Linked DNA regions of Homo sapiens: region 1 is linked to region 2. The links come from fine-mapping of genetic effects on gene expression. A gene starts in region 2. The other region holds a variant in brackets. All regions are shown on one strand. Distances are from middle to middle.

Region 1 (4,000 bases), 42 kb before region 2:
TTACCTGTGGCCCGGCCACCTCAGCGGCCCAAGGAGGTGAGCTCACAGCCATGCTCGGTCAATGGGGCCTGGCCGTCTTTCCTGGGAGAGAGCAGAGGCATGGGCCCAAAGGGAGCCAGGGATGCCTGCCCGTCCCTTCTCTCATTCAGGCTCACCTGGTCATGGTGCAGTGACCACAGGACCCCCACATGCCGGGAGCTGGGTTCGCCCCACCCCACCCCCTGCACCGGGCCAGCGAGGGGATGGCCCAGAAGAGGGGGAGGACCATGTGGATTCACCAGTGCTGGACATGTGCTCTGTGGCTACCCCCTCTGCCTACTCTCTGGCCCGATACAGGGGTGTGGGACAGGTGACTGAACCTCAGCCCTTAGAGGCCTTGCCCGGGAGGAGGGGAGGGGGGTGGAGCCGGGAGCTGCGTGATCCAGCCGAGATGTGCTCTGACTGAGGCCCTGCAGGGCATACGGGTCATGGAAGGGGTGCTCTGCCCCCGGCCAGGGCTCCCCCTCCTACAGGAAGCCGGGGGCCTTGCTCCTGCAAGCTGCCCTTTGGCTGGACCGGGCCCCACTGGCCGGACCTGGGCTCTTTCTCTCTCTGCACCCTGCACCAAGGCTGGGCTGTCTGCCAGGCCACTCCCGGGGACACAGGGAGGCACAGGCTGCTTCCAGCCACAATCTCTGGCAAGCACCTAGGACCTTGTCCCCGCCTGCCAAGTAGCCGCCCGGGCCATGTGTGCCCTGTCTCCTCGGCAGGTGCGGCCCACGCACAAAGCTGCCCAGATGTGGTGGGGGAGAAGCCCCAGGCCTGTGCTGTGTCCGGGGGCCCTGCCGCTGACCTGTGGGGTCTCTGTGACATCAGCAAGCCCCCTGCCGCGAGCTTGGAGAGGCACCCCAGCCCCATCTGGCACTCAAGGAAATCAGCTCAGAGAGGTTGAGTAACTCGGGAAGGCCACACAGCCAGTGACGAAGCTGTGATTCACACAGGCCTGGGTGACTCCAGCATGGCTTTCCTCTCCAGGACGTCACCGGTGGCAGCTGCTTCCTTCCAGAGCCGGCAGGCAGGTGACCTCACCCTCCTCAGAGCCATGGCTCTGCTGCTGGACCCTGTGGGGCTGGGCTCCCCCAGCCAAGCCCAGGGACCCAGCACCACTTGGGGCAGGATGTCAGGAACACAGAGCCTACCCTTCCAACCTGGGCCCGGCTCGGGTCTGGTCATTTGGGACAGTGAGGCCACCTGGATATCTAGGGTCCCACAGTAGACAGGGATGGGGTGGTCCTGGGGGACAGGGACACCTGCCTTCCACACAACCGCACTGGGGCTGAAGACGCCAGCCTGGGAGACTGTGATTTGGACCCTGACAGTAGCATGTGGTCTTAGCATGTGTGAGGTCTTAGCGTGTGTGGTCTTAGTGTGTGTGAGGTCGTAGCGTGTGTGAGGTATTAGCATACGTGTGTGGTCTTAGCATGTGTGGGGTCTTAGTGTGTTGTGAATCACTTTCTTTTTTTTTTTTTTGAGACGGAGTCTTGCTCTGTCGCCCAGGCTGGAGTGCAGTGGCACGATCTCGGCTCACTGCAAGCTCCGCCTCCTGGGTTCACACCATTCTCCTGCCTCAGCCTCCCCAGTAGCTGGGACTACAGGTGCCTGCCACCGCGCCCACCTAATTTTTTGTATTTTTAGTAGAGACGGGGTTTCACCGTGTTAGGCAGGATGGTCTCAAACTCCTGACCTTGTGATCCGCCCGCCTCGGCCTCCCAAAGTGCTGAGATTACAGGCGTGAGCCACCGCGCCTGGTGGTCGTGAGTCACTTCCATGTGTGCCAGCATCTTGGTGTGTGTGGTGTGGGTGTGGACTGAAAGTCTTAGTGTGTGGCGCGTCATCTTAGTGTGTGGTGTGGTTGGTGGCAGCTATAGTGTCCAGCAGGGAGGGCGAGCCCCTGTGCCTACTCGGGGGAGCAGGTGCCTTCTCCACACCCAGACCCTTGGTGTTCCCACATTAGCACCTGTCCCAATGGCTGGGCGGCTGGTCCCGAGAGACACTGGATCTGGGAGCTGAGGTCCCCACCCAGTGTCTGTCAGCCAGGGAAGGGAGGGAGTGCTGGGAGCCCACCACGGCCCCGGATCTGAGTTCCAGGAGCTGGCAGAGAAAGATGGGGCTTCTGGGC[C/T]GGGCACGGTGGCTCACGCCTGTAATCCTAGCACTTCGGGAGGCTAAGGCGGGCGGATCACCTGAGGTTGGGAGTTTGAGACCAGCCTGAGCAGCATGGAGAAACCCCATCTCTACTAAAAATACAAAATTAGCCTGGGATGGTGGCAGGTGCCCGTAATCCCAGCTACTCAGGAGGCTGAAGCAGGAGAATTGCTTCAACTCGGGAGGTGGAGCTTGCAGTGAGCCTAGATCGTGCCATTGCACTCCAACCTGGGCAACAAGAGTGAGACTCCATCTCAAGAAAAGAAAGAAAGAAAGATGGGGCTTCCAAGGAGGTCTCAGCCCAACACTGTCCTCCCCCTCCCTCCACAGGCTGCAGCCCCTTACTCTCAGCCAGGGTCAGGACCCCAGGCCTCCCCTGCAGGGCTCAGGATGGGAAAGATTTCACCTGCAGAGGGATGGGCATCTCTGTCCCCCAGGAATTCCCCTTTTGGGTCCGGGGCAGGTGTGGCTGCCCTGGCTGGGTCCTCCCTCGCCTGCAGCACAGTCCCACGCCCAGCCAGCCTGTTTTAAATAGGAGGCCAGAGGCTCCATCCTGCTTCAGAGCTGCCAGCTGCCCCCGCAATGGCTGAGCACCGAAGCATGGACGGGAGAATGGAAGCAGCCACACGGGGGGGCTCTCACCTCCAGGTACCGTGGGGGGGGGTGAGGGGGGTGGGGGGGTTGGGTGAGGGGGGTGGGGTCGGGGGGGGGGTTGAGTGAGGGGGGTGGGGGGGTTGGGGGGGTTGGGTGAGGGGGTTGGGGGGGTTGGATGAGGGGGTTGGGGTTGGGGGGCCCCACCTCAAGGTACCAAGGTGGTGGTTGGGGTTGGGGGGACCCGCCTCGAGGTACCGTGGGGGGATTGGGGTGGGGGGTAGGGGTGGGGGGGTGGGGCTGGCGGGGGGGCTCCCACCTTGAGGTACCAGGGGCTGGGTTGGGGGGTCTCTTTCCGATGCCTGGCCCCGTGTGCCATCAGGAACAGGATTGCATGGTGGCAATGGGGCAGGTCATCCCTGAGTGCCTCCTTATCCTGAAGAAGGCTGTGTCCCATTGCGGGTACATAGTGTGTGCTGGACCACTGGGGGTGCCGAGCGTGTGCTGGACCACGGGGGGTGCACAGCGTGTGCTGGACCACGGGGGGTGCCGAGCGTGTGCTGGACCACGGGGGGTGCCGAGCGTGTGCTGGACCACTGGGGGTGCACAGTGTGTGCTGGACCATTGGGGGTGCATAGCGTGTGCTGGACAGACCCCGGGAGAACACTGCAGATACTGCGTGTCCAGGCGCTGTGCATCCCGTGGGTTGGCCACATGGCACGACGCAGATCCAGACAGGGTGGAGAGGCCAGTGTAGTCCTGTCTCACACACACGCGCACATGCAGGGTGGGGTCCGGCTCCTCTCTGACCAGGGGTCCAGGCCCTGCCTCACTCAGAAGCCCTGGGGACCCTGACTGGCCCTCCAGACCCCAATCCACAGCTCCCGCTTCTGCTGGCCTGGCAGCCCCCACTAGGGGGATGGTGCTGCCCTGTCTATGCGCCAGGTGGAGACGAGGAGTGGGGACTGGAGTCACAAAGACCCTTCCGAGCCTCTTAGCCTCCCTGCTCAGATGGCCTTGGGGACGCAGGGTGAGCAGAGCCATGTGCCCAGTGGTGGAGCTCCTGGCCAGGCTGCCTGGAGGCCTGTGCGGCCCACACACCCGAGGGGAGCCGTCCCCACCTGGTGTCCCCAGGCCCCGAAGCTTCTGGCTCGCTCTAGCACCTCCCCAGAGTACCTCGGAGCAGGCTTGGGCAGCGGGACAGCCTCGCAGACCAGAGCTAGGCCTG
Region 2 (4,503 bases):
AGGGTGGGTGGGGGGACCGGCGGTGGGGAGGGATGGGCAGGGTGGGTAGGGGGACCGGCGGCGGGGGGGGTAGCCACACACAGGCCAAGGCGTGGGAGTGACCCCAAGGACACAGCAGTGGTCCAGTGAGCGCGGACACGGAGCCCGAGGCAGTCCCTGGTGCAGGGAAGCGGTGAAACAGGACTTCGGCTTTGATGATACCTTGGCTGAGGTGACCTTGAGAATATACCCAGGTACAGATTGCGGGTAATTGAAGCCACATGAAAGATCAGAAAGATCAGATGTCCAGAGAGTGGGCAGAACAGGCAGCCAAGAGGCCAAATGGGAAAGGGGCAGGCTGGGAGGACCCCACGGAGGACCCAGAGAGCAGGGGAGGGCAGTGGGGCCCATGCAAACAGCTGCAAAATGCCATGGGGTGTGCACAGGCCAGGGGTGTTCACAGCACAGTGTCCACACCGGGGCGGGGGGCACCCTCCGAGGAAGCGCTCACGCCATGGGGGAGGACATGGAATCCCGTCCTGGTGTCTGTGCTGGAAGGTGCCCTCGACCCCCTGCCCGGTGGAAGGACCAGGTTCCAGGACAGCACAGGGCAGGCACCTGTGGAAAACGCTAAGGACATCAGGATGACTGGCCACCAACACCATGTCCCTCCAGCTGTTTCTGAGACCCTGGATTTTGACTAATTTTTTCCTTCTTCACATCGTTCTATACTGTTACGACTTTGACTTTCTTTTGAGACATGGTTTTGCTGTCACCCAGGCTGGAGTGCAGTGGCACAATCATGGCTCACTGCAGCCTCAACCTCCTGGGCTCAAGCAATCCTCACAACTCAGCCTCCCAAGTAGCTTGAACCACAGGCACACACCACCACGCCCTGCCAATTTTAGCATTTTTTTTTTTTGGAGTGATGGGGTCTTGCCATGTTGGCTAGGTTGGTCTTGAACTCCTGGGCTCAAGCGATCCTCCCACCTCTGCCTTCCAAAGTGCTGTGATTGCAGGCGTGAGCCACAGTGCCCAGACTGTCAGGACTTTTAGGAGTACATATTTGCGTTTTTTGCTATTTTTTTCAGTGTTGCAGAAATCAGGTAGAACAAGAGCTAAAGTGAGAGTTGATTGTAACTCGGGCGTGAGCACACAGAGTGGTGGACAGAAAGCAAGACGTGAGGAGGCAGAAGCGGGGCTGGGGGGCTGAGGGGCTTGCGGGGTTAAGGGGCTTGGGGGCTGGGGGACTGGGGGGCTGAGGGGCTGGGGGGCTGAGGGTCTGGGGGTCTGCTGGGCTGAGGGGCTGGGGGACTGAGGGGCTGGGGGACTGAGGGTCTGCTGGGCTGAGGGTCTGGGGGACTGGAGCGCTGGGGGGCTGGGGGGCTGAGGGACTGAGGGGCTGAGGGGCTGGGAGGCTGAGAGGCTGGGGAGCTGGGGGGCTGAGGGTCTGCGGGGCTGAGGGGCTGGGGGGCTGGGGGGCTGAGGGGCTGGGGGGCTGAGGGGCTGGGAGGCTGAGAGGCTGGGGAGCTGGGGGGCTGAGGGTCTGCGGGGCTGAGGGGCTAAGGGACTGAAGGGCTGGTAGGGCTGGAGGCGGCAGCGCGCGGCACGGGGAGGTCAAGGCACCGACGAAAGCGCACAGCGAGCGCGAAGGCCCCGCGGCCCCATCTGCGACGTCCCCTCACGGCCGCCTGAACCTCGGGGCTCGCGTTCTCGCGTCACTGCCGGAGGCCCGGGGTGCAGGGACTAGGCCGCCTCTCGGCTCCCACCAGGGCCCGCGCGGGGAGGAGACCGGAGGACGCCCGCGGCGCGCACCTGGCTCCACGAGAAACGGGAGGGAGCGGGGCGCCCAGCCCGCCCGGAGCCGCATACGGAGCCCACCCCACAGCCCTCCCGGCGGCTCCCACTCACCCAAGGGCGTGACTCTGATCTCAGGCATCGTCTCCGCCGCGCTCCCGGACCCGCGAGGCCCGCCTGCGGTGATGCACTGCGCAGGCGCAACCACCTCGCTGCAACTTCCGGTGCGCTAGCCGGAAACGCGGGTCGGGGCGCCGGGCCTCCTGATTGGGCAGCATCCAACCAATCAGGGCGGCGGGCGAGGGCGGGGCGAGGGCGGGGCGGTGGGCGGGGACGGGGCCCGCACGGCGGCTACGGCCTAGGTGAGCGGCTCGGACTCGGCGGCCGCACCTGCCCAACCCAACCCGCACGGTCCGGAAGTCGCCGAGGGGCCGGGAGCGGGAGGGGACGTCGTCCTAGAGGGCCGGAGCGGGCGGGCGGCCGAGGACCCGGCTCCCGCGCAGGACGGAGCCGTGGCTCAGGTCGGCCCCTCCCCAACACCACCCCGGGCCTCCGCCCCTTCCTGGGCCTCTCGGTGGAGCAGGGACCCGAACCGGTGCCCATCCAGTCCGGTGCCATCTGAAGCCCCCTTCCCAGGTGAGACTCGTAGCGCTCGCTCGACAGGGTCTGGTCCCACCCACAAGGCCTGGGGCGCCGTGGGGCCCCGTCTCCTGCTGGCCCCCCAGCCTGCTGTCAGCCCCCGTGCTCTGTGCTCAGGCCGCCCTCGCGCCCGGCCCTGACCTTGGGCCGTTGGGCTGCCCTGGGAAAGGCCTGGAGGTGTCCTGGGTCACCTTCCTGGGCTGGCAAGCTGCCTGCCTCCTGCACAGCCACTGCCCTTCCTGTTGTTACCGAGCCACCAGCCACAGCTCTGAGAAGCTCCTGGCAGCTTCTGTTTGCCACTGGCTCGAATCTGGGCAGGAAGGCAAGGCCCGCAGAATATCTGGTGACCAAGAAGGAAACCCCAGAGCCTCAGAGACCATCTTCTCAGTGGACAAAATTAAGGCCCGAGGAGGGGAGGGGCGTGCTGGAAGTCTATGGGACTGCATCTTTCTGAGGCCCAGGAGCAGCCATCCCCCACACCTGAAGCCCGGTGAGCTCACATCTGGGGCCTCCGCCTGGTGCCAAGCATGCAACCCAACCTGTGGGGCCTGCAACGCCAGGCTTCAGCACCCTGCAGGCACCAGTGCTCCAGCAGCCTGGGCCACGGGCTGGGCAGGGCTTGCAGCCCATGATCCCTAGTGATGAAGGGCCCAGTCCTAGGGTGCTGAGCAACCTGCCCACCTGCTCCTGGCCAGGAGCTCTCACCACGGCTGGGTGCCCTTCCCCCTCCCCCACCGATGGAGTCCCTGCAGCCAGGGAGGCCAGGACAGGGCTCCCAGCACCAACCGGCCTAGGAACCCCCAGGCCCTCTTCCTGGTCGAGGTGGAATGCAGCTGACTCTCAGGTTCCCCAGAGCAGGTGCGGGCCCGTGGGGCACCCGGGGAGACAGGGCAAGGGTGCTTGGCAACACTCACACAAAGCATGGGTGCCTGGATGTCTGTGGATCTGTGGAGTGACTATGTGAATGCCAGCAGAATCCAAAGCAGGGCCTGGGCCACTCGTGGAAGGCTCCCTAGGGCTAGTACAAGAGCCTCGTGGCAATCTTCTGAGTGGTAAAACCCATCTGTGTGGGACATGGAGTTTCAGCAACAGGAGTGAAAACACGTGTCCATCCATCCAGCAAGTGCCAGCCCTACAGCCTCTTTTCTGCTTTTGGGGATGTAGCAGTGAGGAAGATGGGGCAGCCTGCCCGGCAGCATCCCCCCACCCCCGGCCCCACCTGTCTCTGCTTTCTGCTGTGTCTGTTTTCTTGTCTAGGACTTCAGAACTTCCTGTCTTTGTTGTCATCTGACCCCACCCCAGATGGCTGCTCGCACTCCCCATGCACCCAGATAGATGGCTAGGATGGTGCTTGGCTCTCGGCAGGGGCTTAGTATTTCTCCAGCTGGTAAAAGCAGATACAGCATCTAGAGAGAGAAACAAAAACAAGAAAGCACCAGCAGAGACACCTGCTGCAGACAGCGGGGCCTAGTGGTCTGATAAAGCCAGAGGGGGCCACTCTCGGGGTCAGGGACTGACACGGAGTCAGTGGCCTGATCCACAGGAGGGGCTGTGCCAAGGTCCCTGAATGCGCAATCCTGATGAAGGGTGGGTCAGGGTGGTGTGCCTGAGAGCCTGCGGCTTGGCTGGGAGCAGAGCCAGGCAGCTCCTGGGAGGAAGCTCCATGAGGGGCATGAGTGTTCAGTGAGCGGCAATGGGATCGCAGCTATTTTGTTCCCCTCCACACACAGAAAATGAGCCACAGAGCAAGCTGACCCCAGCGACACAGCCCCCCAGCCCTACTGTATTTCCGTTCCTATCAAAAAATGGATGACTCGGAGACAGGTTTCAATCTGAAAGTCGTCCTGGTCAGTTTCAAGCAGTGTCTCGATGAGAAGGAAGAGGTCTTGCTGGACCCCTACATTGCCAGCTGGAAGGGCCTGGTCAGGTGCGTGTGCCAGGGCTGCCTCCTGAGGTGGGCGCTCCCCTGGCCCGAGTCCCATATGTGGCATCTGCCTCCCGACTGCCTGTCCCCACCAGCTTTGCTGCCCGTTTCCAGATGGGTGTGAGCCCCCGCAGGCTGGGCAGCGTCCCCTGCACCCCAGGCGG

What was found.
Region 1: its variant is fine-mapped to the expression of CPTP in whole blood (TOPMed, PIP 0.93).

Annotation. Positions count from the first base shown.
Region 1 is chr1:1,281,262-1,285,261 of GRCh38, forward strand. SCNN1D (sodium channel epithelial 1 subunit delta) reads left to right here. Exons shown (of 18, transcript NM_001130413.4): 2 at 1-36; 3 at 150-349; 4 at 981-1,054; 5 at 2,717-2,829. Among named protein-coding and RNA genes, the nearest start is that of SCNN1D, 2.8 kb to the left of the region's middle. RefSeq lists a silencer at 1,899-2,099. The variant C/T (reference allele first, on the strand shown) is at 2,159.
Region 2 is chr1:1,322,691-1,327,193 of GRCh38, forward strand. CPTP (ceramide-1-phosphate transfer protein) reads left to right here and starts at 2,112. Exons shown (of 3, transcript NM_001029885.2): 1 at 2,112-2,412; 2 at 4,146-4,342. The coding sequence starts at 4,221. It overlaps INTS11 (integrator complex subunit 11), which reads right to left and starts at 1,970. Exons shown (of 17, transcript NM_017871.6): 1 at 1,891-1,970. The coding sequence starts at 1,918. RefSeq lists an enhancer at 431-940 and silencers at 1,759-1,888, 2,069-2,568.